3 linked regions of the Homo sapiens genome follow. The protein of the gene in region 1 interacts with the protein of each later gene in a biochemical or structural test. Each region holds a gene or a part of one and is shown in the gene's direction. Other genes may lie near its edges. The genes, in order: DNM1L, USP16 and ATAD3A.

What was found.
Region 2: the proteins of DNM1L (region 1) and USP16 form a complex in vitro, tested with the Homo sapiens proteins (one study listed by BioGRID).
Region 3: the proteins of DNM1L (region 1) and ATAD3A form a complex in vitro, tested with the Homo sapiens proteins (one study listed by IntAct).

What each region holds. Positions count from the first base shown.
Region 1 is NC_000012.12:32,714,750-32,725,572, forward strand, and holds part of DNM1L (dynamin-1-like protein), read left to right. Parts: intron 1-3,893; coding exon 3,894-4,014; intron 4,015-5,914; coding exon 5,915-6,046; intron 6,047-7,677; coding exon 7,678-7,884; intron 7,885-10,823. UniProt on the Homo sapiens protein: Functions in mitochondrial and peroxisomal division.
Region 2 is NC_000021.9:29,039,327-29,050,149, forward strand, and holds part of USP16 (ubiquitin carboxyl-terminal hydrolase 16), read left to right. Parts: intron 1-154; coding exon 155-242; intron 243-1,282; coding exon 1,283-1,361; intron 1,362-2,686; coding exon 2,687-2,778; intron 2,779-3,145; coding exon 3,146-3,202; intron 3,203-4,096; coding exon 4,097-4,273; intron 4,274-7,340; coding exon 7,341-7,995; intron 7,996-9,434; coding exon 9,435-9,529; intron 9,530-10,765; coding exon 10,766-10,823. UniProt on the Homo sapiens protein: Specifically deubiquitinates 'Lys-120' of histone H2A (H2AK119Ub), a specific tag for epigenetic transcriptional repression, thereby acting as a coactivator.
Region 3 is NC_000001.11:1,503,980-1,515,189, forward strand, and holds the start of ATAD3A (ATPase family AAA domain-containing protein 3A), read left to right. Parts: upstream 1-8,182; 5' UTR 8,183-8,289; coding exon 8,290-8,494; intron 8,495-8,550; exon of another isoform or gene 8,551-8,711; intron 8,712-11,210. UniProt on the Homo sapiens protein: Essential for mitochondrial network organization, mitochondrial metabolism and cell growth at organism and cellular level. May play an important role in mitochondrial protein synthesis. May also participate in mitochondrial DNA replication.

The sequences.
Region 1 (10,823 bases):
GCCAAGGTGGGTGGATCACTTGAGCTCAGGAGTTCGAGACCAGCCTGGGCAGCAAAGTGAGAGCCCCATCTCTATTAAAAAAAAAAAACCACAAAAAACAATTAGCTGGGTATGGTGGCACTGGGCTGTGGTCCTAGCTACTTGGGATGCTGAGGTGGGAGGATGGCTTGAGCCCGGGAGGCAGAGGTTGCAGTGAGCCGAGATCATGCCATTGCACTCTTGCCTGGGCTCAGAGCCAGACCTTCGTAAAAAACAAACAAAAACCTGTTAAGCATTTTATATGTATAAACTCTATTTTAAACTGACCCTTGAGCCATAGATATTGTCATATTTTTAATCTAATCTTTTTTTTTTTTTTTTGGATGTAGGGTCTCACTCTGTTGCCCAGGCCTGGAGTGCAGTGGCACAATCATGCCTCACTGCAAACTTGCAGTCCTGGGCTCAAGTGATCTTCCCACCTCAGTCTCCCAAAGTGTTGGGATTGCAAGAGTGAGCCACTGCACCTGGTTTGATTACTAATCATAATCTAGTAATACATCATAAGGAAATAATCCAGCCCAGTATTATTTATAGTATAAAAAATTAGAAACAACTTAATATGGCCAGCAGTTGGAAAGATTAAGTAAATTATAATAATAAAATATGAAATAATTAAAAAGGATGATTTTGTAGATTTGTAGCAGTACAGAAAAATGCTTGTAGGCTGGGCATGGTGGCTCACACTTGTAATCCCAGCACTTTGGGAGGCTGAGGTGAGCGGATCGCTTGAGACCAGAAGTTCCAGAGCAGCCTGACCAACATGGTGAAACCCCATCTCTCTAAAAATACAAAAATTAGCCAGGCATGGTGGTGCATGCCTGTAGTCCCAGCTACTGGGGAGGCTGAGACATGAGAATCACTTGAACTGTGGAGGCGAAGGTTACAATGAGCCGAGATTGTGCCACTGCATTTCAGCCTGGACAACAGAGTAGGACAGTCTCAAAAAAAAAGAAAAATGCTTGTAACTGAAAAATACCATAGGTAAAATTGTACACTATGCAGAGCAGTTGGAACTCTCACACGTTGCTGGTGGGAGTGGTGTAGTCATTTTGGGAAACAGTCTGGCAGTTTCTTATAAAGTTAAATTAGCAGTCCCGTTCCTAGGTGTTTAACCATGTTAAGTGAGAACCAGTGTTCATATAAAAAACTATATGCAAATGTCTACAGCAGCTTTATTCATAATTTTCAAAAACTAGAAACAACTCACATATTCCTCAGATGGGGAGTGAAACTAAAGTATGGTACATTCCATACAATGGGACACTACTCTGCAATAAAAAGGAATGGACTATTAATATACAAGAACACGGATGAATCTCAAATGCATTATGCTAAATGAAAGAAGCCAGACTCAAAAGGTTATGTACTATCTGATTTCGTTTATATAACACTCTAGAAAAGGCAAAACTAGGAATGGAAAACTGGTTTGATTGGTTAGCATAAGAAAATTTGGTGGGGGGGGGTGGCAATGTCTTGAGTTGGTTGTGACATATCTCTTGGCATTTGTCAAAACTCTTAGAACTGTACACCAAAAAAGAGTAAATATTTTTATTTTTTGTTTATTGAGACAGGGTCTCATTCTGTTGCCCAGGGTGGAGTGCAGTGGTGCAATCACGGCTCACTGCAGCCTTGACCTGGGCTCAGGTGATTCTCCCACCTCAGCCTCACCTGTAGCTAGGACTACCACACCCTGCTACGTTTTCTATTTTTTGTAGAGACAGAGTTTCACCACTTTGCCCAGACTGGTCTCGAACTCCTGGGCTCAAGCAATCTGTCTGCCTTGGCCTTCCAAAGTGTTAGGATTACAGGCATGGGCCATATCACCTGGATGTAAATTTTATACAGATTTTTGAAATGCTTACAAAATAGCCCTAAGAGTCAACAAAAAATTACATGTGAAAAAAATCTATTTTATATATATACTATATATAGAGTATATATACACTATATATAGTATATATATATATATATATATAGTAACTGAAAATACCATAGGTATTTCACTACCCATCTGAGAAATATGTGAGTTGTTTCTAGTTTTTGAAAATTATGAATAAAGCTGCTGTAGATATTTGCATATAGTTTTTTATATGAACACTGGTTCTCACTTAACATGGTTAAACACCTAGGAATGGGACTGCTAATTTAACTTTATAAGAAACTGCCAGACTGTTTCCCAAAATGACTACACCACTCCCACCAGCAACGTGTGAGAGTTCCAACTGCTCTGCATAGTGTACAATTTTACCTATGGTATTTTTCAGTTACAAATATATATACATAGGTATATATATATATTTTATATATATATTTTATATATTTATATATATTTTATATATATACCTATGTATATATATTTGTAACTGAAATATATATACTATAAAATATATATAGTATATACTATATATATTTATATATACTATAAAATATATAGTATATATTATATATATTTTATATATAGTATATATAGTATATATATACTATATATTATATATACACTATATATTTTATATATACTATATATTATATATACACTATATATTTTATATATACTATATATTATATATAGTATATATAATATATATACTATATATAATATATAGTATATATAATATATAATATATATTTTAAATATATACTATATATATTTTAAATATATACTATATATATTTTAAATATATAGTATATATATTATATATATATAGTATATATATATATTTTAGACGGAGTCCTGCTCTGCATAGTGTACAATTTTACCTATGGCATTTTTCAGTTACAAATATATATACCTAGGTAGATATATATATAAAAAATACATATACCTAGGTAGATATATATATAAAAAATACATATACCTAGGTAGATATATATATAAAAAATACATATACCTAGGTAGATATATATATAAAAAATACATATACCTAGGTAGATATATATATAAAAAATACATATACCTAGGTAGATATATATATAAAAAATATATATACCTAGGTAGATATATATATTTGTAACTGAAATATATATACTATAAAATATATATAGTATATACTATATATATTTTATAAATATACTATATATAGTATATACTATATATATTTATATATACTATATATAGTATATATATAAAATATAGTATATATTTTATATATATATAAAATATAGTATATATAGTATATATATTATATATAGTATATATAGTATGTATAGTATATATAATATATATAGTATATATATTATAAATATATACTATACATACTATATATACTATACATATTTTATATATATACTATACATATTTTATATATATACTATATATATTTTATATATAATATAGTATATATATTTTATATGTATAGTATATATATATATTTTAGATGGAGTCCTGCTCTGTCACCCAGGCCGAAGTGCAATGGCACGATCTCAGCTCACTGCAACCTCTGCCTCTCGGGTTCAAGCAATTCTCCTGCTTCAGCCTCCCGAGCAGCTGGGATTACAGGCGTCTGCCACTGTGCCTGGCTAATTTTTGTATTTTTAGTAGAGATGGGGTTTTACCATGTTAGTCAGGCTGGTCTCAAACTCCTGATCTCAGGTGATCCACCCGCCTTGGCCTTCCAAACTGCTAGAATTACAGGTGTGAGCCACCGTGCCCGGCAAAAATGTTTTAAAAAATTATACACAATGTTTAACATTATTTTTAAAAAAGCACTGGTAAGTAAGGCATTACCAAAATGATGACAGAGGTAATACTAAGTGGGATTGTAGATGAGGGTTTTCCTTTATTAACACTAAATAGTTGTATTTAATGGATCATTTTCTTTCTTTTCTTTGCCCTTTTTTCTTTTTGCATTTACCAGGTCGCAGAACCCTAGCTGTAATCACTAAACTTGATCTCATGGATGCGGGTACTGATGCCATGGATGTATTGATGGGAAGGGTTATTCCAGTCAAACTTGGAATAATTGGAGTAGTTAACAGGTTAGCAGTTAGAATGGGATAAGAATTGGGATAAGCATTCTTAGAATGGGATAAGCATTCTCACTTCAGAGCAAGTCTGAATTTCTAAAATCTGTTTGAAATGTGATGCTGTACTATATTTTTTCTCCCTTTTATTATGATCTTGGTATTGCTAAAGAATCCGTTGCCCTAAAGGGAGAAAAGAGAGAGAATTTTTTTTTTTTTTTGAAATAGGGTCTCTCTCTGTTGCCTAGGCTGGAATGCAGTGGCGTGATTGTGGCTCATTGTAGCATCAACCTCTGGGCTCAAGTGATCCTTTCACTTCAGCCTTTCAAGTAGCTGAGACTATAGGTGTGTATCACCACACCTGGCTAATTTTAAATTTTTTTGTAGTGACAAGGTCTTGCCATGTTGCCCAGGCTTGTCTCGACTTCCTGGGCTCAAGCAATCCTCCAACCTTGGTTTCCCAGGTGCTGGGATTACAGGCATGAGCCACTGTGCCTGCCCCATAGACATTTTTACTGGAAAATGTTTCTAAAGTAAGCAATACCACAAAATGGAAGAAATGTTGTAATAGCCAGGCTTTAAGAATTCTTGCCTATCATGTTAAGCTATGTATGAGGAGGTACTGGGTAAGGGAAAAATTATCTAATGTGCACCCAATCGAGAAAGAGTTTAAGGTGGCAGGATTTTAATAGATTGGTTTTAATCCCTGGCATTAGTGATGCTTCTGTGTAATTGCCAGGATGTGACTTGGAGAAATTGTATTAAAGGTATCCTAATTTATAAATAGTTGGTATTAAAAACTGGGAAAAGGAAACTAGTATTGAGTGTCTAATTAAAGGTGACAAGATTTTAATAGATTGGTTTAATCCCTAGCATTAGTGATTCTGTGTAATTGCCAGGATGTGACTTGGAGAAATTTTATTAAAGGTATCCTAATTATAAATAGTTGGTATTAAAAATCGGGAAAAGGAAATTATTATTGAGTGTCTAATTACGTTTTAGACACTCTACTGTGAGCAATTTGCAAATGGTATCTCTTGGAATCCTCACAGCATCCCCTGAGGTAGGTGTTGATGTCTATTTTATAATCAGAAACCTCAGGTTATACATTTAACCAAAAGTCACGTGGGTAGTGAAAGAGCTGGATTCGGATGAATATCTCTTTTAGTCCAAAGCCTTCATATGGTAGGAAACACTGAAATTATCATGAAATCTGAGTTATAGTCCTAGTTCTTACATAAACTAGATACAACGTAGGTTTAAATGACACCTAATGTCTTTGGGTCTCAAGCCTTTAGAAAATGAAAATGTTTTTACTGCCTGATACATAAGATCCATTCCAGTTGTCTGCTTCTATTTTAATGTCCTTCCATTCCAACCCTACTGTCATTCTCCCATCCCCACTGTCATTCTCCCATCCCCACTCCCAATTCCAGCTGTCTCCTTTTTCAGGTAAGGAGGTGGCCTAACACTGTTCGTTGTTTGTAGATGATTGTTCTTCAAGTTAACTTAATTATTTTTGGGAGAAATTAGTTCCCTGTCCATGGATAAAATATACAGTTGACTAAGATACTCTTATATTTTTATACCTGTCTATACCTGTTACTTATTGTTTTTGTCTATAGTTAATGGTAATAATGAGGCCTACTCTATTTAGGCACTAGTTACTTACAATTCACTTAGTTCAAGTCTTGGCTATGCCAGTTAGTGTGTGACCTGGGGTAAGTTAGTTTTTGTGAGCCTCAGTTCCTTGCTATACAATGGGGTAATAATACCTGCCACATAAAATTATTGTGAGAATTAAATAAAACAGTCCCTGTCAGGTATTAGAGAACAATGCCTGGTGCTGTCATCATCTAAGGTAGGAAGAGGACAACAGTTAAGCTGAATAGTTTCGTTATTTTTTCAACCTCAGGAGCCAGCTAGATATTAACAACAAGAAGAGTGTAACTGATTCAATCCGTGATGAGTATGCTTTTCTTCAAAAGAAATATCCATCTCTGGCCAATAGAAATGGAACAAAGTATCTTGCTAGGACTCTAAACAGGTAATTTTTTTACCTTTTGGAAATGAGATGTGTTTGTTTTTACCAATTGGTGTCTGAGAGGGTTCATTTTCAGTTCCTTACATTTTCATACTGTTCCTAACAGCTTCACTTATGGTTTCTTATATAGTAGGTTCCTGAAGAGTAGATGTCTCTGTTTTTATTGGGGTGGTTGACATTACATCATCACGTAGTCTAGAATGAATGTACAAGTGATTTTAAAATGTTTTAATTACGAAAATTTTGACAGTTAATTTAGTTTTGTGGCTAGAACTAGAGATGACTTCATTTCCACTTTGCATTTCAGGAACTGATTAAAATTTGTAATTTTCACATTATCTATTCTTACCTTAGAATGTGTTTTATTTACCAGGAAAGGGAGATGGAAAAACAAAGAAATAGAATGTCTTTTATTTCTATTCACTGTAGAAATAACTATACGTTGGATTCTGAATACCCACTGATGTGTGGGGACTAGAAGCCCTTTCTAGATGATTTATAAATGACTGAAGTGGAAGCCATTTTCTCTTACTTTTATCTTATTCCCTAAAGACTGATAGACTTGGATCTTAATAAGGTTGATTTTCACTTTGCTGGGTACCAATTGTAAATGACAAGTCAATGAAACCAAAATTATATAGGAAGAATTGATTGGGTGGCTTATTTTCTCTGTGGTAATTGCAGTAATATGAAAATAATTTGCATTTTTTCCTTGCTTTTATTATTTAGGAAAAACCAATCAAAATTGTTTTTTTCCTTTTCACACACAGTTAATCAGTATAGCACAGAATGCTTTTGAGAGCAGATATATGGGGAGTTTTCCCCATACATCAAGCAAGGAATTCTCCAGGGGATTCTAGCTGAATGTCCTTTAATTCAATGCTAACACTGTTTACCTGGAGATAGTGTCAGCGCCCACAGGTTGAGGGTTCAGTCCCACAAGACTGCCCCCAAGTCAGATGCCAGTTGTAAGCACAGGTTGTAGCCTGTGTTTCTGACTGACAGGCTATAAGTCAGGGTACCCATGATCCCCTTTTCATGTTTGATGAATTTGTTAGAGTGGCTCACAGAGGTCAGGGAAACACTACTTAGCATATACCCACTTACTGTAAAGCATATTACAAAGGATATAGATAAATAGCCAGATGAAGAGATGCACAGGGCTGGGCATGTGGGAAGGAATGTGGAGCTTCCGTGCCCTCTCTGGGCACACCACACTCCAGGAACCTTCATGTGTTCAACTCTCTGAAGACTCCATGAACTGTGTCCTTTTGAGTTTTTATGGAAGCTTCATTGGCCATTGGTGATCAGCTCAATGTTTGGCCTCTCTCCTCTCTTCTGAGGCTGTTCTGGTGACCAGCTCCCATCCTGAAGCTATCTAGGGACCCCCAGCCACCAGTCATCTCATTAGCATGCAGAGACACTCTAAACACCCTTAATGCTCTTGGAGAGTCCAAGGATTTTAGGAGCTGACTGCCAGGAAATGAAGACAAAGACCAAATATATATTTCACAGTATCACATTTGCCAGGACAAATTATTTGATAGGTTTTCCCCATTGTAAAAATTTGACTTGTTTAGGGCTTTAGAATACACAATTTTACTTTTAAATCCTTCCTTTCTAACCTTTTTTAGGTTACTGATGCATCACATCAGAGATTGTTTACCAGAGTTGAAAACAAGAATAAATGTTCTAGCTGCTCAGTATCAGTCTCTTCTAAATAGCTACGGTGAACCCGTGGATGATAAAAGTGCTACTTTACTCCAACTTATTACCAAATTTGCCACAGAATATTGTAACACTATTGAAGGAACTGCAAAATATATTGAAACTTCGGAGCTGTAAGTAAGAAATTTTTCTGTAGATTTGGTTACCTAGATTGCTAGGTCACTTTTCCTTTTGTGAAGATGACTTCAGCTCAGATTATCTGATTAAGATTTATTTTCTATAAAACAAAAATATAACTTTGTAGAGATAATAGGATGATGTCTGGTTGTGTGAAAATATGCTTTGTAAATGATATAAAGCAAAGTAAAATTGTCACATATTTTTAAATATTTTAATATTTTATAAGTATTTACTTATTTTTATAAGTATTTAATAAGTATTAAATATTTTAATAAGTATTTAAAAATAATTTAGCTTTTAAAGTGTTTGTTTCTTTAGTACACACAGTATAATTGCTCACAAAAATTAGAAAATGCAGATAAGTAAAAATAAAACATAAAAACAAAATTACATGTTGGTGTGCACCTGTAGTCCCAGCTACTCAGAAGGCTGAGGTAGGAGAATTCCTTGAGCTCAGGAGTTCAAGTCCAGCCTGGGCAACATATTGAAATTCCATCCTTTTTTTTTTTTAATTGAATCCAAATTTTATTAAGGATTTCAAGTTACATACTTCAGATTTCTAGAATGGAATGGAATAATTTTGGAACTGGAAAAATGGCATAAACACTGATATCCCTTGAAACTTCAATTTTATAAAGAAAATTCTTCTGCAAACCACATCCCCATTATATAACAAGACCAGGTATTATCGACACCTTCACTTTGGCAATAACTATTTCCTAAAAGAATGAAAAAGATTATTTTGCTACCTCAGTTCGTTAAAAATGGGATTCTGGCCAGGCACAGTGGCTCATGCCTGTAATCCCAGCACTTTGGGAGGCTGAGGCGGGTGAATCACCTGACATCAGTTCAAGACCAGCCTGGCTAACATGGTGAAACCCCATCTCTACTAAAAATACAAAAACTAGCCGGGCGTGGTGGTGGGCAGCTGTAATCCCAGCTACTTGGGAGGCTGAGGCAGGAGAATTGCTTGAACCCGTGAGGCGGAGGTTGTGGTGAGCCGAGATGGTGCCACTGCACTCCAGCCTGGGCAACAGAGCAAGACTCTGTCTCAAAAAAAAAAAAAAAAAAAAACAGGGATTCTATCTTTAAAGTTCAGAAAAAGCTGCATTTAGATGAACTACGGCTACCAAAACAAACAAAAAAACAGAGTGTCTAATCAAAGCAAAGGAAATGATTTTGAAAATAGAACAAAGCTATTATAATTGGTTAAGGATTTCCAGTAGTAAGTTAAAATCTCAGGAGAGGAATGGATAGCATTACAAACAATGTGTTCACATTCCAAGACCTGAACACTAACTTCTCAAAAAGGAAGTTTTCATCACCTCTAAAAATGAATTCAATGTAATTTTGTTAAGAGCAGGAAATCTAGACCTTCCTCTAATGACAATCCAATAGTCCACCCTCGCCATCGTCAAAAGAAAGTTGCCTCAAAATTAACAGTAATTAGCCTGAGGTATTGTAAATGTGGCACTACAGTCTGAAATTTAATGGCATCTTTTGTCAAAAATAGTCTTATCTCTACTTTAATCTCATGACTACAATACTATGTGCTATCCCTGTAGTATTTACTACTATGCAGTCATACAGAAAAAAATTGTTGGACCTTGTGAAATAGTGCATCCATCTACTTCTATAAAAATAGGAGCCACATTGGCCAGGCGCAGTGGCTCACGCCTGTAATCCCAGCACTTTGGGAGGCTGAGGCAGGCAGATTACGAGGTCGAGAGATCAAGACCATCCTGGCCAATATGGTGAAACCCCATCTCTACTAAAAATACAAAAATTAGCTGGGCGTGGTGGCACGTGCCTGTAATCCCAGCTACTTAGGAGGCTGAGGCAGGAGAATCGCTTGAACCCAGGTGGTGGAGGTTGCAGTGAGCTGAGATCGCACCACTGCACTCCAGCCTGGGCAACAGAGAGAGACTCTATCTCCAAAAAAAAAAAAAAAAAATATATATATATATATATATATATATAAATTATATTAATTAAATATAAATTAAATATTTAATATATATATAAAAAATAATAATATATATAATAATATATATAGAAGCCACACAAAGATCACTAACTGATAGTTTAGTTTGATAACTGTTTTCCAGTTTAGTTGTCAAAGCATGGTGTGAACAAAATGCTGAGTGTCAACACTGGCATTACAAATAGGCCCAAAATGTGAGCTTTTAATGAGAATGAGAAACATTTTATGAGATTTAACTGAATATGCCTTAACACATCCATGAGGTAGTTAAGTAAACAGTACTACACATTTTAATACATAGTAAACAGAAGCATGGGTAAGTGACATACTCATACTTCAAGCAATAAGAATTAGAAGAAACCACACAGAAGCTTGGGGCATTCTCTCTAGCTCTACCCCAAAGAAAATGAACTTTAATTTTTTTTTTTAAAGCATCGTATCACTGAAGATTTTCTTCTTCTTCTTCTTTTTTTTTACACTTGCTTATTAGTATAGTATCTCTTTCCAAAGCTGGTACCCTTTTCAATAATGTGGTAAAAACTGAGTATAACCCTTAATTCAAGCTAGGCCTCTCCTTCTACCTGAATTGGTACAAAATTAAGACATCTTGTAAGAACTAAAATTGTATTTGAAATTTTTATTTTAGGCTACAAAAACAAGCAAACAAACAACAAATAACTTGAAAACAGGTCTTGTCAAATGATGTAAGTTCATCCTTTCCAGGGAAGCAGAAGGTAGACCCTACCACAAAGAAAAGATGCTTAGTTAATGGAGGTTAAATTTAAAAGTACAGTGAAATTCAGGCTAACTTCTGAAAAATCCTGTTTTATTCACCTCACTGTGGTACCAGTAACTATACTGAGTCAGGTTACTTTACAGTTAACTATGTCACCTATAACACAATAATCCATTAACAATCTAATACAGTTATTGGGTGTGGTCATACTG
Region 2 (10,823 bases), on another chromosome or scaffold:
TAGTTAAATCTCCCAAGGGTGTTAATGGACTAAACGGAAATTTGTAGAAACCAGAACTCTCTGAGATTTGGGATATGATCCTAAGATTTTCTAAAAATAGCTTCAGAGCTTAGTAGACTGAAGATTGCTTTTCTGTCTTTTTGTTTTTCTCTAGAGCAGTGCGGTTTAAAGGCTATCAGCAGCAAGACAGCCAGGAGCTGCTTCGCTACTTATTGGATGGGATGAGAGCAGAAGAACACCAAGTTAGCATGTTATGACCATTGTATTTTATGATCTTATCTTCATAAGCTTTCTGTCTCATTTGATATCTTACGAGTTAAAACAATGAAAGCTAGTTATTAAGGCCATCATACTTTAAAATTTTTTCTTACACCAGCTTTTTCAACTAGTATGTTTTCACCATTAGAATGAATCCAGAGAATTAGCAGTAATTCTCTTTCTCATGATGGCTTAAGTTTAGTTGATGTTTACAGCATTAATGTTCTTTAAAGATTCTGTTGTACTAACCTATACGAAGAGAGCTGCCAAATATTGGAAATTGTTTCTCCCAAACCCAGGTGCAGCACACCCTTACTTTTAATTCTGAGTCTGATTTAATACTGTTTTTTGAACCTAGGAAGTATTTTCATTTTGTAAGAGTCAGGGAACATTGGTTGCATTTTAAAATTTTTGTTACTTGCCAGGATATAAAAAAATGTATTTGGGGTATGAATTAATGAGTACTAATAATAGTGATAATAACTAATATTTATTTCGCACTTATTTTTATGCCAATCACTGTTTTCAGTGTTTTGTATTAATTCCCTTACTTCGTTCTCACAAAGTTTCTGTGAGGTGGATACTGTGATTTTTTCCTATTCCATAGATTGAGAATCTAGGCTGTAGAGAAGTTCAGTACCTAGTTTAAGGTCCCCCAGAAATAATGGAGCTGGGCTTTAAGCACTGGAGTCAGACCCTGTGGCTGTCATGTAATCATTGTGCTTGTAGGACAAGCTATTTCAGTTTCTTCTCAAAGGTGGTGGGCATGTTCTGAAAACCTTTGGCTTGAAGAGGTTTAAGATCTTGAAATGATAAGATAATACCTTTATTCAATGGTTAGTGATTGCTTTGTGACATAATTCCTTTTTAGCTCCTTGAATTAAGTTTGAAAATGTGATTTTGGAATTATTTAGTAAATATGGGGAGCTGTATCCTGATCACTTTCTTGACTTGATTACATATTTCTAAGGAAAATAAAATTTAAAATTTAATAGTATATATATATCCATTTTATTACTTTTAGAGAGTGAGTAAAGGAATACTTAAAGCATTTGGTAATTCTACTGAAAAGTTGGATGAAGAACTAAAAAATAAAGTTAAAGGTAATGTCTGACTTTTTGAACTAAAACACTATAGTTGAATTCCTCTGTACCTTAGGACAAGATTGCTGGCACATATATTTCCAAGTCCACAATTATTAATGTATAATTTCTCTTTATCAACGTTGATTAGTAAAAATTATTCAGTGCTCCAGAAGTGAACAGTTTTACCCCATGGTGTATTCTTTTTATGTATTAAAGATAGAACTATGATGAATTACAGTTTTACTTTTCAAAAGCTTAAAATTATAATTAGCAGTAATACATGAATTATATTTGTTACTGTGAGTTGTCAGTAGTTGGTTTATTAATCATGGAGCCAACTTAGTTCTTATTATGTGGCGTGTAAAGATTTAGGGCAGATCTGCCCAGTAGAACTTCCTATGTTGATGGAACTCCTCTATACCTTTGCTGTTCCATATAGAAGCAACTAGGCACGTGTGGCGCCTGAAATGTGACTGGTGAAACTGAGGAACTACATTTTTATTTTTATTTAATTGTAATTAAATTTAAATAGCCGTAAGTGACTAAGGGCACTGTATTATAAAGCACAGATTTGAATCAACTCATAGCAACTCTTTGCCTCCTTGGTGCCCTTTAGAGCCTGGCCAGTAATGGAGAGAATTACCCCTGCTGGCATTTTCTGTCAGAAAAGTGTGGTTCTGCATAAATTATCATTTGAATAATGCTTATAGGTTTCACGTATTTGGAAAATTGGCTGATCAAGTAGTAAAATTATGGCTTTTAGTTATATTAAACTTATCAAGATTATTTCTGGGAGCATAGGAAAATAAAAGGAAGATTTTGTTTGAAATATTTTCCTGAGGTTTTTCTTTTGTTTTTAAAATATCAAAGGAGTTCAGTCTTAGAGTTCACAAAACAAGTTACATGCATTTTCTCTCCCAGTTTGCTACTCTGGTATCTTTTATCAGTCTTGAATGTTAGAATGTTAGAGCTAGAACTAAGGAACTAGGCTGTCATTCAGCCTACTCTGAGCTGTTCATTTTATACTAATGGAGAGAGAGAGAAAGACATAGAAGTCTCACTGACTTGCACAGTTTACTTCCCACTGACTAGATCTTGGATAAGGACTTTTTTGTCTTATTCATAAAAGGCGATTGTGTTCAATTATGTTATGCTCAGAGGTGGAATATATAATACTGACTTCTATTGCTTAAAAAAGGTGATTATGAATGGAGGAAGAAGTCTGTGGGACAGGAAATTTAAAATAAAATTTTAGAGTTAGATAGGTAAGTAGTTTTAGCTTTTCTTGTTTAATTAATTATATAACGGTAATTGGTAATTGATAGACTTTTTTTTCTCCATAGATTATGAGAAGAAAAAATCAATGCCAAGTTTTGTTGACCGCATCTTTGGTGGTGAACTAACTAGTATGATCATGTGTGATCAATGCAGAACTGTAAGTAGATGTCATGTATACTGGGTTTATTTGCTAATATTCAACAGTTTATCAATTGTTTATTTCAAAAGCAGAAATCTCTACCTTCATAGGATATCTTTTTAAACTATTCAGATGCTATTCAGATGTGCATGGTTCTTTGTGGGAAATGTCAGCACTCCTTAAATCTTGAAGACGTTAAACAGTTTGATTTATTTCCCCCAACCCAAAGTCCTCAATGTTGTGTAATTTTTCATTTCAAATTTTCTTAAGCCTTTGTTTATTTTAAAACCCATCCCCTACTCCCCATCCCACAGGGCAGGGAGGATCTTACTATGTAACATTTACAGTATTTACATTTTTACACTGTCTTTTCTGATTGGTTAAGGTCTCCTTGGTTCATGAATCTTTCCTTGATTTGTCCCTCCCAGTTTTAGATGATCAGGTAAGACTATTGAATTTATTTTATTCAAGTAGATTTTTTTTCCTGTAAGATTTTGTGGGGGGAAGCCTTGTTACTCTTTTTAAGTTTGTATATTACTAGCCCATGCAGAAATTTTTCTTAATTTGAGGTAGAATGCATTTTAGGATTTGAATAAAGAACAGGGTAACTACTTTAAAAACAAGGATGGAAAAAAAGATGATGTATTCAGAATTCTGTACAAGTAATTAGTTTGATTGGTTTCCATACAGTGAAGTATTTTCCTTATATTAAAATTAATACTTATTTTTGTTATTTAAGACTAATCACGAATCCCTTGCACACCTAAGTTCATAAATGTTAAAGAGTATTATTTTGTTTTAATTTGGTTCCTTTTAAATAGTAGTAGGAAAAAAGAAGAGATGTTATGAGTATTGGATAAATCATTCTTCAACTTCATATGAATTATGAGACCCTTGGCTTGTTAACTTGGCAATTAAAGTCTCACCAAATTTTATTTTCTGTTTTTCTGAAACTGTCATATGCATGCAAAGAAAGAAAAGAATAAAAAAGAATACACCGTGGTGACTTACATAAGTCACTTAGAAAATGTATTTGGAAATGGACGTATTTACAGTGTGACACAGCATGTATCTAATAAATTTCGTTATATTTCTATTACACTTACATGTGATGTTGCCTTTTGCTGTTTTGTTGGTTTGCTTGTTTTCTCATTATGTGAAGATTGCTTTCTAGTGTATGAGATAAACGAATTTTGTCTCATCTATTTTCAAATATTGTGGAAAAAAAAAGCTAATACATAATAGAAGTAGAAAAATATTTACATAGTGTGGATTTTTTTTCACCAAATGGTAGTTGTAAAATTTTGTTTTTGACCTATGTTATCTATATTTTAAGAGTGGTAAGAAAAGTGTAAATGATAAAAATCTGAAAAAGACAGTGGAGGATGAAGATCAAGATAGTGAGGAAGAAAAAGATAACGACAGTTACATAAAAGAGAGAAGTGATATTCCTTCTGGAACAAGTAAGCACTTACAGAAAAAAGCAAAGAAACAAGCCAAAAAGCAAGCCAAGGTGGGTAATTAGGAGGAAAATCATATGCTTGTAATTTTATATTTTGAGCTATTGAGTTTGTAGTCTGAATGACATTGGTTAGACATGTCTGTTATTTTAGATACAGCACTTTCATTTGACAATTACAGAATTTAGCTCATTTAGTATTCTCTGCAGGGAAATTGCTTTGAGTATATGTGAAGAAAACGTCGTGCTTCTTTTTTTTTAAATCCTGCATTGCTTGTAACAAGTATTTGTAGTAAGTTTAATTAACTTAATTTTCGAGTTAATATTATTGACATCCACAAATTTAAAAATATATAAAGGTAAACAATAAGTCCCCCTCCCACCACTGTTTTTTTTTTCCAACCCGAGATGGAGTCTTGCTGTGTCGCCCAGGCCAGAGTGCAGTGGCACGATCTCTGCTCACTGCAACCTCCATCTCCTAGGTTCAAGCAATTCTCGTGCCTCAGCCTCCTGAGCAGTCAGGACTACAGGTGCATGCCACCAAGCCTAGCTAATTTTTATATTTTTAGTAGAGACAGGGTTTCACCATTGTTGGCCAGGCTGGTCTCAAACTCCTGACCTCAAGTGATCCTCCCTCCTCAGCCTGCCAAAGTGCTGGGATTACAGGCATGAGCCACCGCGCCCGGCCGACCACCACTTTCCTTTTATGACAAAGATAAACATTTTTGTTTTTTCTTACGTATCCTTCTGGAGTTTCTTTTGGAAAATATGAGCAAATACAAATATGCAGTCTTGGTTTTTTTCCCCCTTTCTCACCATTCACACCATTCTGGATTGTGTTGTTTGTTTATACTTAGATTCTTGGAGTCCTTTCCATTTTAGTATATAAAACTTCTTCATTCTTTTTTTTTTTTTTTTTGAGATGGTGTCTCACTCTGTCGCCCAGGCTGGAGTGCAAATGGCGAGATCTTGGCACACTGCAACCTCTGCCTCCCAGGTTCAAGTGATTCTCCTGCCACAGCCTCCCAAGTAGCTGGGATTACAGGCATGTGCCACCGTACCTGGCTAACTTTTGTATTTTTAGTAAAGACAGGTTTCGCCATGTTGGTCAGGCTGGTCTCTAACTCCTGACCTCAGATAATCTGCCCACCTCAGCCTACCAAAGTGCTGGGATTACAGATGTGAGACACCGTGCCTGGCCCATTCTTTCTTTCTTTCTTTCTTTCTTTTTTTTAACAGTTGCATGATTCTGTGTTATGGATGTGCCATAATTCATTTAACCATTTCTCTATTGATTTAGGTTGTTTCTAGTATTTTGCTATAATGGTGAGTGCTCTAGTGAATAACCCTACACATAAGTCATCTGTAGGGTAAATTTTGAGAAGAGGGATTGCATTTGTAGTTTTGGTTGATACTAATTGTCCTTCACAAAGGTTGCTCCTGACCCTTGACAGCTGTGTGTTATCAAACTTCCAGATTTTGATTGGTATGTTAGATGGAAAATATTATCTCAGTGCAGTTTTATTTTACATTTATTTTAATATAAATTAGATTAAGCATATTTTTATGTTTCAGAGCCATTTGCATTTCATGTTCTTTGAAGTTTTTGCTTATATTCTTTTCTTATTTTTTATTCATGTGTTCCTCTGTTTTTACGGAAACACATCAGAAAATGTTTGGTTCCCATCCTGTTTGCTGCCCTTCATTCTTCTGGTATTACAGAGTAGCCTCACAGGGGCTGTTCTTTCAGTTCTTTCTGTTACAACCAGAAATGCCTTTGGGTTTTTAGGCATTTCAGTAACAGGAATCTTGATGAAATGCCTTCTTTTCCTCTATTTGGAAGTAGGTTGCAAGTGGCAAGAGTGATTTTAAAGGGAAAAGTTCTTTACTCTCTTCTGTATGTGTGGCTACCTTGCTTCTTTGCTAACTTCAGGCCATTTTTTTCCCAGAATACTTTTGTCCATTCCTCTGACCAAAGCAGTCCTGTACTTGTGCATCCTTGAGTTTTCTTTCAGTTTGTTTTTTTTTTTCTCTCAGTGAAACCTTGACCCAGTAACTCATATGGATACATTTCTTTCTGTTAGTGTGGAGTCAGACCCACCGTGTGGTATAACATTTGACTGCCTGGGTTTAACAGTCTTAGTACTCTGCCTGGATTACTTCCCTTAGCACAGAGACCATGTCTTGCATATTTTTATTTCTACAGTAGGGTGGTTTTTTGATGGTTGGTGATGGTTTATTCCTGATTTCATTTAAATAACTTTTTCTTTCTTTTTTTTGGGAACAGAGTCACTTTGTTGCCCAGGCTGGAGTGCAGTGGTGTGGTCTCGGCTCACTGCAACCCCCACCTTCCATGTTCAAGCTATTTTCCTGCCTCAGCCTCCCGAGTAGCTGGGATTACAGGCGCGCACCACCCATGTGTGCATTACAGGCACGCCTGGCTAATTTTTGTATTTTTAGTAGAGATGGGTTTTCACCATGTTGGCCAGGCTGGTTTCAAACTCCTCACCTCAAGTGAGATGCCCTCCTTGGCCTCCCAAAGTGCTGGGGTTACAGGTGTGAGCCACCACACCTGGCCTAAATAACTTTTCTTCATAATTTATTTTTTGAGACAGAGTCTTGCTCTGCCACCCAGTTTGGAGTATAGTGTGCATGATCATACCTCACAGTAACCTTGAACTTTTGGGCTCAAGTGATCCTCCCACCTCAACCTGCTGAATAGCTGGGACTACAGGTGGACACCAACGTGCCCAGCTAATTTTTATTTTTATTTTTTTTTAGAGATGGGGTCTCAGTATGTTGCCCAAGCATGTCCCAAACTCCTCAAGTGATCCTCTTGTGATCATCTTGCTTTGGCCTTCCACAGTGCTAGGATTACAGGTGTGAGCCGCCATGCCCAGCCAATTTCGTCATAATTTTTTTGATCCTTGATAGCAAAGGAACTTTTTAGGATCAGATTGTGAGAGTGAACTCTTCCTTAGGAAATTATTTTTGATTGACAAGCAGCAAAACTGGATATAGTACATGTGTGTGTTTTGTCCTTCTTCCTCTATCTCTCTTCCTCCTTTTCTCCCGCTCTTTCTTTTTCTTTATTTTTTGATGCCGTATACTTTTTACCCAGAACCAACGAAGACAACAAAAAATTCAAGGAAAAGTTCTTCATTTAAATGATATTTGTACTATTGACCATCCTGAAGACAGTGAATATGAAGCTGAAATGTCACTTCAAGGAGAAGTAAATATTAAATCCAACCATATTTCACAAGAGGGTGTTATGCATAAAGAATATTGTGTCAACCAGAAAGATTTGAATGGCCAAGCAAAAATGATCGAAAGTGTAACTGACAATCAAAAATCCACAGAGGAAGTAGATATGAAAAATATCAACATGGATAATGATCTGGAGGTTTTAACATCTTCTCCCACTAGGAATTTAAATGGTGCCTACCTAACGGAAGGGAGCAATGGAGAAGTGGACATTTCCAATGGTTTCAAAAACCTAAATTTGAATGCTGCTCTTCATCCTGATGAAATAAATATAGAGATTCTGAATGATAGTCATACTCCTGGAACAAAGGTGTATGAGGTTGTAAATGAAGATCCAGAAACTGCTTTCTGTACTCTTGCAAACAGGGAAGTTTTCAATACTGATGAGTGTTCAATCCAACATTGTTTATATCAGTTCACCCGTAATGAGAAACTTCGAGATGCGAATAAACTGCTTTGTGAAGTATGCACACGGAGACAGTGTAATGGACCAAAGGCAAATATAAAAGGTATTTTAATGCTCTCACTGTAAGTAAAATTAATATTCAGGGGCACATTTTGCACTGCATAGGTAGAGTACTCCTAATTGTATCAGGATTTGGATGGCATGAATAAGTGTCCTTTTCTGTGTAAATATTTTAATAGGATGGAAAAGTAGGACTTTATTGAAGTGGCTAATACACTGTGACATCCCAGCAGCAGTTAAATGGGACAGTTTTCTCCCTGACATCTCTCCCTGTGGGTAAATTATCCCCTTGGAATGCAGTCACCACAGCATCCTGACACATAGTGGCTATTTTTTTCCACCCTTACCTCCTTTGCACCCAGGACGCCACACTTGAATTTATCAGTGAACTAATATGACATGCCCAGTGCAAAGCACTGGGAAGACAGTGCTTTCTTACAGTCTTCCTCAAATGGGAGAAAGGATCATACTGACAATTTCCCTTATCTCCCCATTGCTTTTTTTTTTGAGTTTGGGTAAATAGGATGTGGAGGGGCCATGGATTCCTAAGGATTTTTAGTAGAATTGTTGAAACATTTTAAAATTCTAAGTAGAATTTTATTTATTTACATATAGAGACAAAAAGTAAGCCTGTGTGTGTGTGTATGTATCTTATATGTGTGTGTATGTATATATATATATGTGTGTGTATGTATATATATATAAGCTCAGAGACTATACAAAAATAGGCTTACTTTTTGTCTGTATATATATCAGCTCAGAGACGATACGTGTGTGTGTGTGTGTGTGTGTGTGTGTGTGTGTGTGTGTGTGTGTGTGTTTTGAGACAGAGTCCTGCCCTTTCTCCCAGGCTAAAGTGCAGTGGCCAATTTCAGCTCACTGCAATCTCCACCTCCCGGGTTCAAGAGATTCTCCTGCCTCAGCCTCCCAAGTAGCTGGGACTACAGGCACCCGCCACCACACCTGGCTAATTTTTGTATTTTTAATAGAGATAGGGTTTCGCCACGTTGGCCAGGGTGGTCTCAAACTCCTAACCTCAAGTGATTTGCCCGCCTAGGCCTCCCAAAGTCCTGGGATTACAGCGTGAGCCATCGCACCCAGCCTAAAAAATATTTTTTATAGATGAGCATTTGCAAATGATTTGATGTGATGGAATATACTAAACTTTCAACCTCATTAACCAAAATATTGTGTCTCTCCACAGTAATTCAATTTTGCTCTGATTGTAATCATTCTCAGTTATTACTGTATTTTGATTTCATCAGTAAGAATTTATGGACATTTTAATCTCATAAATACCTATAAAATATCTTTGATTTTGCCTCTTACTCCACAAATTCTACAATATTTGTTATCTAGTACTTCATAGAAAAAGTTTACTGATCCTTGCTTTAGATGTTTGGAATGATTTTATAGCAAATCTGAATGCTTTAGGGGTCTAAAATGATTTTCTCCCTGTTAAAAATTTCTTCTTTTCTTTAGGTGAAAGGAAGCATGTTTACACCAATGCCAAAAAGCAGATGCTAATTTCTCTTGCTCCTCCTGTTCTTACTCTTCATTTAAAGAGATTTCAGCAGGTACTCCTTGTTACCCAAAATTTGTTTTAAATATGTAACACCTACTTTATTACCTATTTTTTTCATTACTGTCTCAACATACTACTTTGTTTCTTTGGTTTTCTGTTGTTTCTTAACTGTAATGTCAATGAAGTCAGAAAGGGAAAAACATAGGGGCTAGGCAGAGGCGCATGTGAAGATGGAGGCACAATCTCCTCAGATTTCCTAGAACTCATTTATGTCCCTCTTTTTAGTACGATTGGCATCTTACTTTTATTTCAGGTTAAAAAAAGAAAAAGACTGGTGTGTTACATATATCTCATGCTTAGGAATATTAGTGATTTTTTCTGTTTTGTGTGTGGCATCTTGTTTTTACGGACCCTTGATAAAAAGACATTGGTGCCTTGGATTGTCATCATTTTGGTGACCTCATCTTTTCTGGAAAACTTTTGCTATAGCTGTATAACTTCTAAACTGTGTTGCAAATTCCGAAAGTACTTTCAGTATCTTCAGAACGTTTTGCCTCTTGTGGTTGGTATGGGCTTGACTAATTGGGTGGGCCTTTATTAACAATTCACTAAGCTTGGTTTGAGCATGAGGCTGAGAGCGTGTGTTTCACAGAAAAGTATTATGCTATCGCTGAGTTTTAAGCACTCAGAACCTGTGGTCTAATCTGGCATTTCTGGATGGCTGAAGCAGAAACATTGAGAATTTTCTCACGAGAAAAGTTGTTTTTCTTCTTTTTGAAACAGTCTTGTTCTGTCACCCAGGCTGGTGTGCAATGACACGATCATGGCTCACTGAAGGTTTGACCTCCCAGTCTCAAGCGATCCTCCCACCTTAGCCTCTATAGTAGCTGGGACTATAGGTGGCTACCACCATGTCCAGCTAATTTTTTAATTTTTTTGTAGAGACAGAGTCTCACAGTGTTGCCCAGGCTGATCTCGAACTCCTGGGCTCAAGTGATCCTCCTGCCTCAGCTTCCCAAAGTGCTGAGATTACAGGCATGTGCCATCGTGTCCAGCTGGGAATAGCTTTCTTAATGTGTTGGTGTGTGTTTTTTGTGTGATACATGTGTACTTAGCAAAAGCAAACCAACTTGGAATCAGTTAGTGTTCAGGAAGAATTGAGTCTCCAAAGAAAATTGAACTAGGACTTAATGTTGATATTCTTTTGGACGTCGGAGGGGACTTCGGTTTACTTAACCTGTATTGCTTTTCCAAGAAAAGAAGTCAATCTGTTATGCTTCTCTTTTAGGCTGGTTTTAACCTACGCAAAGTTAACAAACACATAAAGTTTCCGGAAATCTTAGATT
Region 3 (11,210 bases), on another chromosome or scaffold:
TTTTAATTATTTTATGTATTTATTTTGAAACGGAATCTTGCTCTGTTGCCCGGGCTTGAGTGTCGTGGTGCGTTCTCGGCTCACTGCAATCTCTGCCTTCCAGGTTCAAGTGATTCTCCTGCCTCAGCCTCCCAAGTAGCTGGGATTACAGGCACCGACCACCACACCCGGCTAATTTTTGGATTTTTAGTAGAGACGGGTTCACCATGTTGGCCAGGCTGGTCTTGAACTCCTGACCTCAAGGGATCTACCTGCCTCGGCCTCCCAAAATGTTGAGATTACAGGCGTGAGCCACAGTGCCTGGTCCCTCACTTTCAGTCCTGAGTTCACAGGCGGGGTTCACATGTTGCCTGTTGTGGGCATTGTAGCTTAAAAATTTAATTGGCAAGGCCAGGTGCGGTGGCTCACACCTGTAATCTCAGCTCTTTGGGAGGCCGAGGTGGGCGAATCATCTGAGGTTGGGAGTTCGAGACCAGCCTGACCCAACATGGAGAAACCCCATCTCTACTAAAAATACAAAATTAGCCGGGCGTGGTGGCGGGCGCCTGTAATCCCAGCTACTCAGGAGGCTGAGGCAGGAGAATCACTTGAACCTGGGAGGCGGAGGTTGCGGTGAGCCGAGACCACGTCATTGCACTGAAGCCTCAGCAACAAGAGGGAAACTCTGTCTCAAAAACAAAAAAAAAAAGAGAGAACAGGAGTGTGGTCGACTGCTGGGCCTGCCATAACCACTGGGGCGTGTGTGCCCACAGCTCTGAAGACTACAGGCCCAAGGTCAGGGTGCCAGCTCAGTCCCTCCCTGTGGAGTGTTCTTTGCTGGGTCCTCATGTGGCGGAGAGAGTGACTGAGCTCTCACTCTGGTGTCCCTTACAAGGATGCTCATCCTGCACTGCTCACAGTGGTGGTGGTAAGCCACCGCGCCCAGTGCCAACTTTGTCCTTCAACAGTTTGTGTGTGTGTGTGTGTGTGTGCGCGCCAGGCACAGTTGTAGGATCCAGCTCCACAGGTTCGGTGGGTTTTCTCTTTGTGTGCAGAGACAAGAGAGTGTAGAAATAAAGACACAAGACAGAGATAAAAGACAGCTGGGCCCGGGGAACCACTGCCACCTAGACGTGGAGACCGGTAGTGGCCCCGAGTGCCAGGCTGCGCTGTTATTTATTGGATACAAGACAAAGGGGCAGGATAAGGAGTGTGAGCCATCTCCAGTGATAGGTAAGGTCACGTGGGTCACGTGTCCACTGGACGGGGGCCCTTCCCTGCCTGGCAGCCGAGGCAGAGAGAGGGAGGGAGGGAGAGAGAGAGACAGCTTACGCCATTATTTCTGCTTATCAGAGACTTTTAGTACTTTCACTAATTTTGCTACTGTTATCTAAAAGGCAAAGCCAGGTGTACAGGATGGAACGTGAAGGCGGACTAGGAGTGTGACCGCTGAAGCACAGCATCACAGGGAGACGGTTAGGCCTTCGGATAACTGTGGGCGGGCCTGACCCTCCACAAGAGGTGGAGGAGTAGAGTCTTCTCTAAACTCCCCCGGGGAAAGGGAGACTCCCCTTCCCAGTCTGCTAAGTAGCGGGTGTTTTCCCTTGACACTGACGCTACCGCTAGACCACGGTCTGCTTAGGTCACGGGTGCCTTCCCAGGCGCTGGCGTTACTGCTAGACCAAGGAGCCCTCTGGTGGCCCTGTCCGGGCGTAACGGAAGGCTCGCACTCTTGTCTTCCGGTCGCTTCTCACTATGTCCCTTCAGCTCCTATCTCGGTATGGCCTGGTTTTTCCTAGATTATGATTATAGAGCGAGGATTATTATAATATTGGAATAAAGAGCAATTGCTACAAACTAATGATGAATGATATTCATATATAATCATATCTAAGATCTATATCTGGTATAACTATTCCTATTTTATATATTTTATTACACTGGAACAGCTCGTGCCCTCGGTCTCTTGCCTCAGCACCTGGTTGGCTTGCCACCCACACACAGTGGCTCATGGCTGTAATCCCAGCACTTTGGGATGCCAAGGTGGGTGGAGCACCTGAGGTCAGGAGTTCGACACCAGCCTGGCCTAAATGGTGAAACGCTGTCTCTACTAAAAATACAAAAATCAGCCAGGCATGGTGGTGTGTGCCTGTAATCCTACCTACCTGGGAGGCTGAGAGGCAGGAGAATCACTTGAACCCAGGAGGTGGAGGTTGCAGTGATCTGAGATCGTGTCACTGTCTTGCAGCCTGGGTGACAGAGTGAGACTCCCTCGCAAAAAAATAAAATAAGTTTTTTTTTTCCCTTTGGCAATTCAAGATCCCTAGAGGTTCCATATCAACGTATTAATGCTTTTTCTATTTTTGTAAAAAATAATTCGGGTTTTACAGGGATTGCATCCAGTCTCTATATTGCCTTGACGTCTCTTAGCAATGTTGTCTGGTTTTCTTTTTTTTTTTTTCTTGAGATGGAGTCTCACTCTGTCACCCAGGCTGGAGTGCAGTCGTCGGCCAGGATGGTCCCAAACTCATGACGTCAGGTGATCTGTCTGCCTTGGCTCCCAAAGTGCTGGGATTACCGGCGTGGGCCACGGCGCCCGGCCAGTTTTCATTGTACAAGTCTTTCACCTTCTTGGTTAAGTGAATTTCCAAGTATTTTATTCTTTCAGATGCTATTGTAAATGGAAATGGTTTCATAATTTCCCTTTCAGATTATTCATTGTTAGTATGTAGAATTGCAGCTGTTTCTGCTGTTGATTTTGTTTCCTGTAACTTTGCTGATGTCACGGGGTTGTTTTTTCCAATATGGATTCTAGGATTTTCTTTTTTCTTTTTTTTTTTTTTTTTTGATATGGAGTCTCGCTCCGTCACCCAGGCTGGAGTGCAGTGGCACAATCTCGGCTCACTGCAAGCTCCGCCTCTTGGGTTCACGCCATTCTCCTGCCTCAGCCTCCTGAGTAGCTGGGAATACAGGCGCCTGCCACCATGCCCAGCTAATTTTTTGTATTTTTAGTAGAGATGAGGTTTCACTATATTAGCCAGGATGGTCTCGATCCCCTGACTTCGTGATCTGCCCGCTTCAGCCTCCCAAAGTGCTGGGATTACAGGCGTGAGCCACCGCCCGCGCCCAGCAGGATTCTAGGATTTTCTACATATAAGATTATATCATCTGAGAACAGGTGATTTTACCTCTCCCTTTTCAGTTTGGATGACTTCTTTTTCTTCTCTAATGGCCCTGGCCACAACTTCCAGTGGTATGTGGAATAGAAGCAGTAAAGCATTCTTGCCTGGTTCCTTACTCAGAGGAAAAGCTTCCAGTTTTTCACCACTGAGTATGTCACCTGTGGGCTTGTGATATATGGCCTTCATTATGTTTAGGGCGTGTGTTTCAATTCCTGGCTTGTTGAGTGTTTTTCTCATAAAAGGGTGTTGAATTTGGTCAAATGCTTTTCCTGCGTCAGTTGAGAGGGTCATGTGGTTTCCTTCTTCCACTCTGCTAATATTGATTGCTTTTTGTATGTTGAACATTTCGTATGTGGAACATGATTTTCGTATGAACTATCCTTGCATTCCAGGAATAAATCCTGCTTGGTCAGGGTGTATAATTTTTTTATTATACTGCTGAATTCACTTTGCTGGCATTTTGTTGAGGACTTTCCCAGTGATGCTCATCAAGGATATTGGCCTGTCATTTTTCTTGTGGCATCTTCATCTGGGTTTGATATCAGGGTACTGCTGGCTTCCTAGGATGAGTGAGGAAATGTTCTTCAATTTGTCCAGGAGTTTGAGGAGTGCTCTGATTCTTAATGTTTTGTGAATTCACATGTGAAGAAATCAGGTCCAGGTCTTCTCTTTCAACTTTTACAGCTTGGAGATTTTAGGTTCCCAGAAAAATTGCAAGGGTAGCACAGAGAGCTCCCGGGCCTGGGGCCTCGCCACGTGGTGAACGTCATGTGTCACTGTTGGCCCCACCCGCGACTGGGTCTTGCCCCAGAATCCCACCCAGGAGGCCACGTGACATTTAGCTGTCACTTCTGGTGGGCTCCTGCCAGGTCCCGTGCTTCCCAGAGGGGTGGCCCCGTGAGCATCTGCGTAGCCCCTTTCCTCTGCTGGGCCCTGGGTGAGGTGCAGCCACTCGGGTGGACCCTGAGGGTCCCTGCACCTGTTTGCCCTCTCTTGGGTGGGCTCAAGACCAAAAATGATGTTGAGCAGTCCTGGGCCCCTGAGCCACAGTGGCGGTACGGCTCCAGTCAGTGTCTCCTGCGCTCCTGGGCCCCTGACCCACAGTGGTGGTCCAGCTCCGGTCAGTGTCTCCCCACACAGTGGCTCTTGGCGAGGGATGGGCGCTGGCAGAGGGGACGGGCACCACGTGGTCATCCCCATGGCAGGTTCTATCGTGGCGACGGTGTTGTGGGAGGATGGTGTGCTGCTGCCCCTGCACCCCGTGAGATGAATCCTGCCTCTGGGAGGCATAGCTGGGATGGGGCTAGGGACCCGCTCAGCTGTCCGGGAAGGGTCCCCTGCCCTGTGCTTCCTCCAGGCGTCCTGGTGCCCTCCTGAGCACGGCGCCCAGTGGGGGTCCCCACACCCTGACCCTGACCCACGGGTGACTCCCTTTGGGGACTCCATGCCCTTTTCTGGCATTAGGATGGAGAGTGACCTGTCTGGCAGAAAGGCTGGACCTGAGGCTGCCTGAAGCGACACCGAGGGCCACAGCCCCAGCAGCTCCAGCCTTCACATGCTAGATGCCAAGCCCTGTGCCCAGGAGGACAGGAAGGTGGGGCAGGGGTGGCCTTGGTGCCACCAGCCACGTGCCTCAAGGTGGGCAGTGGCTGCCTCTGCCCTGGAGGCCTGTGAGGGTCAGGGTCTGAGGGTCTGAGGTGCACTATGACCCGGGGGCACTGCCTGGCCACGGCTGAGACACGCAGAGGGTCTGCAGTTCCCACCTGCCTCTCGGAAGCTGCCCTGGGTCGGCCGTCAGTGAGGCTCCGCCTTGGGCTTTCTATTATTAGAAAGTCATTGAGCAACAGCAGTGCTGAGGACGCAGGCAGGGCTGTGGGCACTGCAGGGGCTGCCCCCGGTGTCCACACACGTGCTGGGCTCTGCCGAGGTGCGGGAAGCCTGTGTTTCACGCTCAGGCCATCCTGGAGCCCCTGGTTTGGTCCCTCCCCACCTCGGGGCCCTGGCGTGCATTTGGGGTGGGGGGTTCCCATGGCGGCCTCCCTCAGCTCCCTCTCTCCCCACTAGGCCACGGCGTATGCCTCCGAGGACGGGGTCCTGACCGAGGCCATGATGGACACCCGCGTGCAAGATGCTGTCCAGCAGCACCAGCAGATGATGCGCTGGCTGAAGAGGGGGAGGCCTGGGCCCGAGGACGAGCAACCCTCATCCTGAGTCCATGGGGAGACCACACCTCACGGAGCCTGGCCGCGGACCCCTCCCACCCCTGCCTTTGCGGCCCCGCACATTTAGGAAATACTCCCCGTAATAAAGTCCCACGGGGGCCGCACCGCTGTGTCTATTGGCTGGGGCGGGGTTTGGGGCCCCCTAACGTCCCCCTGGGGTCAAAGGTGACAGAAAAGGCAGAAGCTGGGGCTTTCTGGAGGATTTAACCACAGAGGGGTGGGCTGCACAGGAGGTGCCTGCCACGGCAGGGCCGGGTGCCCGTGCCCCATCCTGAGGCCGTGCATACGCGGGTGCCCTTCGCCTCCCTCCCCTCCGCCAGAGCTGCCTGTGGCCAGACACACGGTGGAGGGAAGTGCACGCGAAACAGACACAGCGGCTTCAAATAGATGCCGCCCCTGCCCGCGCTTTGCAGCTAGTCCCTGCAAACCTTGATGATGGGGCTGGGCGCGGTGGCTCACGCCTGGAATCTCAGTGAGGCCAAGGAGAGTGGATCACCTGAGGTCAGGAGTTCCAGACCAGCCTGGCCAACATGGTGAAACCCCATCTCTCCTAAAAAAAAAAAAAAAAAAATTAGCCGGCCGTGGTGGCAAGTGCCTGAAATCCCAGGTACTCAGGAGGCTGAGGCAGGAGAATCACTTGAGCCTGGGAAGTGGAGGTTGCACTGAGCTGAGACCATGGAATTGCACTGCAGCATGGGCAACAAGAGTCAAACTCCCTCTAAAAAAAAAAAAAAAAAAAAAAAGGGCCAGGTGGCACATGCCGGTGGTCCCAGCTTCTTGGCTTGGAGGCTGAGGTAGGAGGATCGCCTGAGCATGGGAGGCAGAGGTTGCAGTGAGCTGAGATCGCACCATTGCACTCCAGCCTGGGTGACAGAGTGAGACCCTCTCAATAAATAAATAACCAAAACCTTGATTACAGCCATGGGGTGGGGGTGGGGGGACGTCTGGCTATTGCTGGGGAAGTCATTTGGTTTTTCTCCTCCTCTCCTATTTTTTTGGTACAGACGGGGTCTCTCTTTGTTGCCCAGGCTGGTCTCCAACTCCTGGGCTCAAGCAATCCTCCTGCCTCGGCCTCCCAAACTGGCGGGGTTACAGGCGTGAGCCACCGCGCCTGCCCTGTTTTCTTTTTCTTTTTTTTTTCTTTTCTTTTTTTTTTGGCGATGGAGTCGTGCTCGCCCAGGGTGGAGTGCAGTGGCCTGATCTCGGCTCACTTCAACCTCCACCTCCAGGGTTCAAGCAGTTTTCCCGCCTAAGCCTCCGGAGTAGCTGGGATTACAGGCGCACGCCACCATGCCCAGGTTAATTTTTGTATTTTTGACAGGGGTTTCACCATGTTGGCCCGGCTGGTCTCAAACTCCTGTTTTCAGGTGATCTGCCCACCTCGGCCTCCCAAAGTGCTGGGATTACGGGTGTGAGCCACCGCGCCTGGCCGGCATTTTCTGGCTTTTTTTTTTTTTTTTGACAGAGTCTGACTCAGTCGCCCAGACTGGAGTGCAGTGACGAGATCTCGGCAGCTCACTGTGTTATATGTAAATTTTCTGTGCCGCCAAAGAAGTAGAACTCGAATATAAATTTTTCTCAGCTAGATAATTTACTTCTATAGAAGGGGACATCTCATAGATGGAGCAATGGCGAGCGCTTGGACAAGGGAGGGGAAGGGGTTCTTATTCCTGACGCGGGTAGCCCCTACTGCTGTGTGGTTCCCCTATTGGCTAGGGTTAGAATGCACAGTCTAAACTAGTGCCCATTGGCTATTTTAAAGGGAGCAGGAGTATGGGCCAGAGTGGCGGGGTGAGTGGTTTGGCGGGAAAAATGGTTATGGGACAGGTAACTAAAGGTGACTCAGGTCAAAGCAGGAGACCGGGATTAGTTAGGACGGAGCAGGTGACCAGGGCAACAGATGTCAACTACTGACTAGAACTGGTGGAAAAGGTTGTTTACTGAAACTGCGAGGAAGGTAGACTTTAAAATGCAGGACAAAGACTGAACATACTGATATACTGATTCTTTGAAGGGAAGTTTAGAACTCATTGTATCTAACATTATTCAGGCTTAAAACAGTTTCCAATCCAGTGGGAAAAGTCACTCCATATATTCCGTGAAGTCAACCAGTTCCATCAAGGAGAAAGTCAGGGCCGCTGGGAGCGCGTGGACCGTGGGCTCCGGGGCGGCGCCTGCCCGGGCACCCCGGCCCCGTCCACGCCCCGCAAGAGGAGCTCGCTGGCCCCGCCACGCGGGAAGGGGTCGCCCCGGGGTCTTGGGCGGGAGGGCCGTGCGGGCTGCGGAGACACCGAGGAGGGGAGGCGCCTCTCCTGAGCTCTTGGCGCAGCGACCCCAGGGCGCCGACTCATCGCGGAAGGGCTCGGCTTGCCCGGGCGCCGGTGCCGCCTCGGGTGAGGTTCCCGCGAGACTCTTCTCTGCGTCCTGGACTCACCGCAGGGCGCCCCGCCGCACGGATCGAGAACCTTGGGGCTCCCTGGAAACTTGCCACCCGCTGCCGCCAAGGCCGGAACTCCTCGGAGCCCCTAGCAACGGAGCCCCTAGCAACGGAGCCCACGCGGATGCGGCGCGGGGCTGACGCTGCCTTGGGTTCGCCTACGTCCCTCGGGAATTTTGTCCCGGCGTGGCTCCCGTAGCCAGATGCTTCGCCGCTCCCGCCCCGCTGGCTCCCAAAGCCTGTTCGGCAGTCGCGGCGCCGTCGCTATGGCGTCACTGTCCTCGGGGCCAATCCAAGGGCTGCGCGCGTGTCCCTTACGCGCTTCTATCGCCGGGAGGAAGGGGTGTGTGTGGCGCCTGCGCAGTGGCGGTGACCACCGGCTCGCGGCGCGTGGAGGCTGCTCCCAGCCGCGCGCGAGTCAGACTCGGGTGGGGGTCCCGGCGGCGGTAGCGGCGGCGGCGGTGCGAGCATGTCGTGGCTCTTCGGCATTAACAAGGGCCCCAAGGGTGAAGGCGCGGGGCCGCCGCCGCCTTTGCCGCCCGCGCAGCCCGGGGCCGAGGGCGGCGGGGACCGCGGGTTGGGAGACCGGCCGGCGCCCAAGGACAAATGGAGCAACTTCGACCCCACCGGCCTGGAGCGCGCCGCCAAGGCGGCGCGCGAGCTGGAGCACTCGCGTGAGTGCGGCGGGGCGGGGCGGCGCGGGCGGGCGGGCGGGACGGGCCGGGGAAGCGGGAGCCCTGGCCCTTGCCGCTCCTCGCCGCTGTCGGCAGCCACTTCCCGGGCGAGACTGCGCCCCCGGAGCACCCCCGGCCGGAGCCGTGTCGCGTGCCGGGAGGATCGGACTCTTTCCGTCACCCGTTTGCACCTCTGCAGCTGTCAGGAGCGGGTCAGGTGCGGAAAGCGGTGCGGAGGTGGCGCTCATAGGTTACAGGGGTCAGGGTCTGGGGCTGGCCGTGGTCTTCAGTTACCGCCGAGCGTGCGGGATCCTTCTGCGCTTGCCGCCTCCACGTGGCACAGGCCAAGGCGTGGCCAGATGGGTAGATGGGTTTGTTGGGTGGTTGCTAGCAGTTTCCACGTAACAAGGGAAGCGTATTTGAGAGTTACTTGATTCTAACGAGACTAGCAGATTTGCACTTCTTGTTGGAAGACGTTAGCATTTGCACGGCGAGGTCTGTGAAGCCACAGGCCAGGCCGTGCTGCTCAGCTTGAGTAAACCCCTGACCCAAGGCCCTCAGGGTGTGAGCACTCACCATGTTGTTCAGGCTGGTCTTGAATTCTGGCCTCAGGTGATTCGCCCACCTCGGCCTCCCAAAGCGCTGGGATGACAGGCGTGAGCCGCTGCTCATGGCCTTCCTCGGTAATTTTAACCATCAGGTTAGGATGGGAATCAAGGGCTGGACTTCAGGGCACCTCGGAGGACAGCGGATGTTGGTGACTGACTTTCTTGCTGCAGGCTTATTTGGAGGGTTCCTTTGTGTCCTAGTTCCTGGGGGTTTTCACCCGCTAACTTCACTTAGAGATTGAAACTTCTCCCACTTCCAGAAGCTGAATCGTAGTGATCAGCCTGCGGCCCCCTGCAGTGGTACAGGCCTGGTTGAGCAGCCTCAGGCCGCCTCCCCATAGTGCAGACCTGTGCCTCTGAGTTGCTCCAGTCCTGGCGGCCCCGGAGCTCCTGACCCGCAGTCCGCTCTGCCGGCGTTGCCAGTGCCTTGGTCTGCCCTCTCTGTGGTGGAGCGGGGCCCGGGGCAGGGTCTCCAGGTGCACCGTGGGGAGCCCTCCATCAGGCTTTTGTTTCCTGTGGATTGTGTTCCAGGTGTGGGCTCTTTCATTCTGATCCCTTCCCTCCTTCCTGGCCTCACTGCTGGCAGGTGAGAGAGGTTTCTCCAGAGTTGACTGCCCCCTTTCCCCGGGTGCCCCCTGCCCTGCCCCTCTGCCTGGTAGCCCCTCTGCAAGCCCGGCCCCTCCCGACGCTCCTGGCTTCCTCCGTGCCCCTTTCCTGGCAGCGGGTCGCCGAGATTCGGCCGGAGCCCATTGCTTTGTCCTTGCTGCTCTCCAGGCAAACGGGCGGCTCCTCCTCACCGACTGCCTCCTCTGTCCCTTGAGGCTATAGCCCCATGCCGCCTGGTTCCCAGAGTGCCCTGACCCCTCCTCCGGCCTGTCCTTGGAAGTCACAGCAGTACATTATCCCAGAACTGTCTGTGAGCACCAGCGCTCGCCCTGCACTCCACAGAGGGGGTGCCTGGAGGAGAGCCTCGTGCCCTGTGGGTGTGAATTCACGCGCTGGGACGCACGTCCCTGGCACAGGGTCACACCAAAGTGGTGAATGATTGTTCTCACTCTAATAACCGAGAGGCCACACGGGCACCTGACCTGCTCTTTCCCCTCTCCTCCTCCCCAGAGTCACTGGGGGTAGGAACTGTCAATGAGCCATTTTCAGGGGAGGGAGTGGCCTCAGCTTAATCCAGCCAAAGGTCCCCTCGGGAGGAAACAGGCAGAGCTCCTCACCGTGACACCCACGTTCCTGTCACTGCTCTGTGGCAGGACCCTGGGTGACTGACACACCCTCAGTCCCCTCGGGGTCAGAGTGAGAGTGGTTGAGAGCCCGGGGTCGCTTCAGCCCTTGGCTTCCCGAGCTTAGCAGCCAAACCCGTTGACCTGGCACTGTCTTCCCTGAGAGGCAGGTCCCGGTCTCATCTGTGCTCTGTTCACTGGGGCCCCCGAGGTTAGCTACCAAGGCGCTTCCTGAAATCTGACACTGATGCCCGTCAGCCCAGTTCGTGCCTAACCACAGGCCCAAGCAGACCCACCCCAACACCAAAGCGTCGCTGCCTCTGTCTAAATGCAACGAGTGCTCCCCACGGCACTTCCCCCTGCGTCAGTCACCTCCAAAAATTACACCTGAGCTGAGAACAGACGCTGGGCTCTAGTTAGTGACGTGTTTGCTGCAGTTGACTCTGAAGGCTTAAAAAAGTGAGACGGGCTGCGGGAGGAAGAGAGACGGGAACAACGCACCAACCCAGGAGCATCGGGGGTCCCTGCCTACTTTACGTGTCTTTCTGTGTTAGCAGATTTATATGTTTATTTATTTATTTGAGATGGAGTTGCCGTCCGTCGCCCAGGCTGGAGTGCAGTGGTGCAACCTCGGTTCATCGCAACATCCACCTCCTGGGTTCAAGCAGTTCTCCAGCCTTGGCCTCCCAAGTAGCTGAGATCACAGGCGTGCACCACTGTGCCCTGCTCTTTTTTTGTCTTTTTAGTGGAGACAGGGTTTCGCCATGTTGGCCCGGATGGAGATTTTTCTTTTTTAAGTCTCTCTCTGTCTAGCTGGAGTGCAGCGGTGCGATCTGGGTTCACTGCAGCCTCTGTCTCCGGGGTTCAAGCCATCCTCCC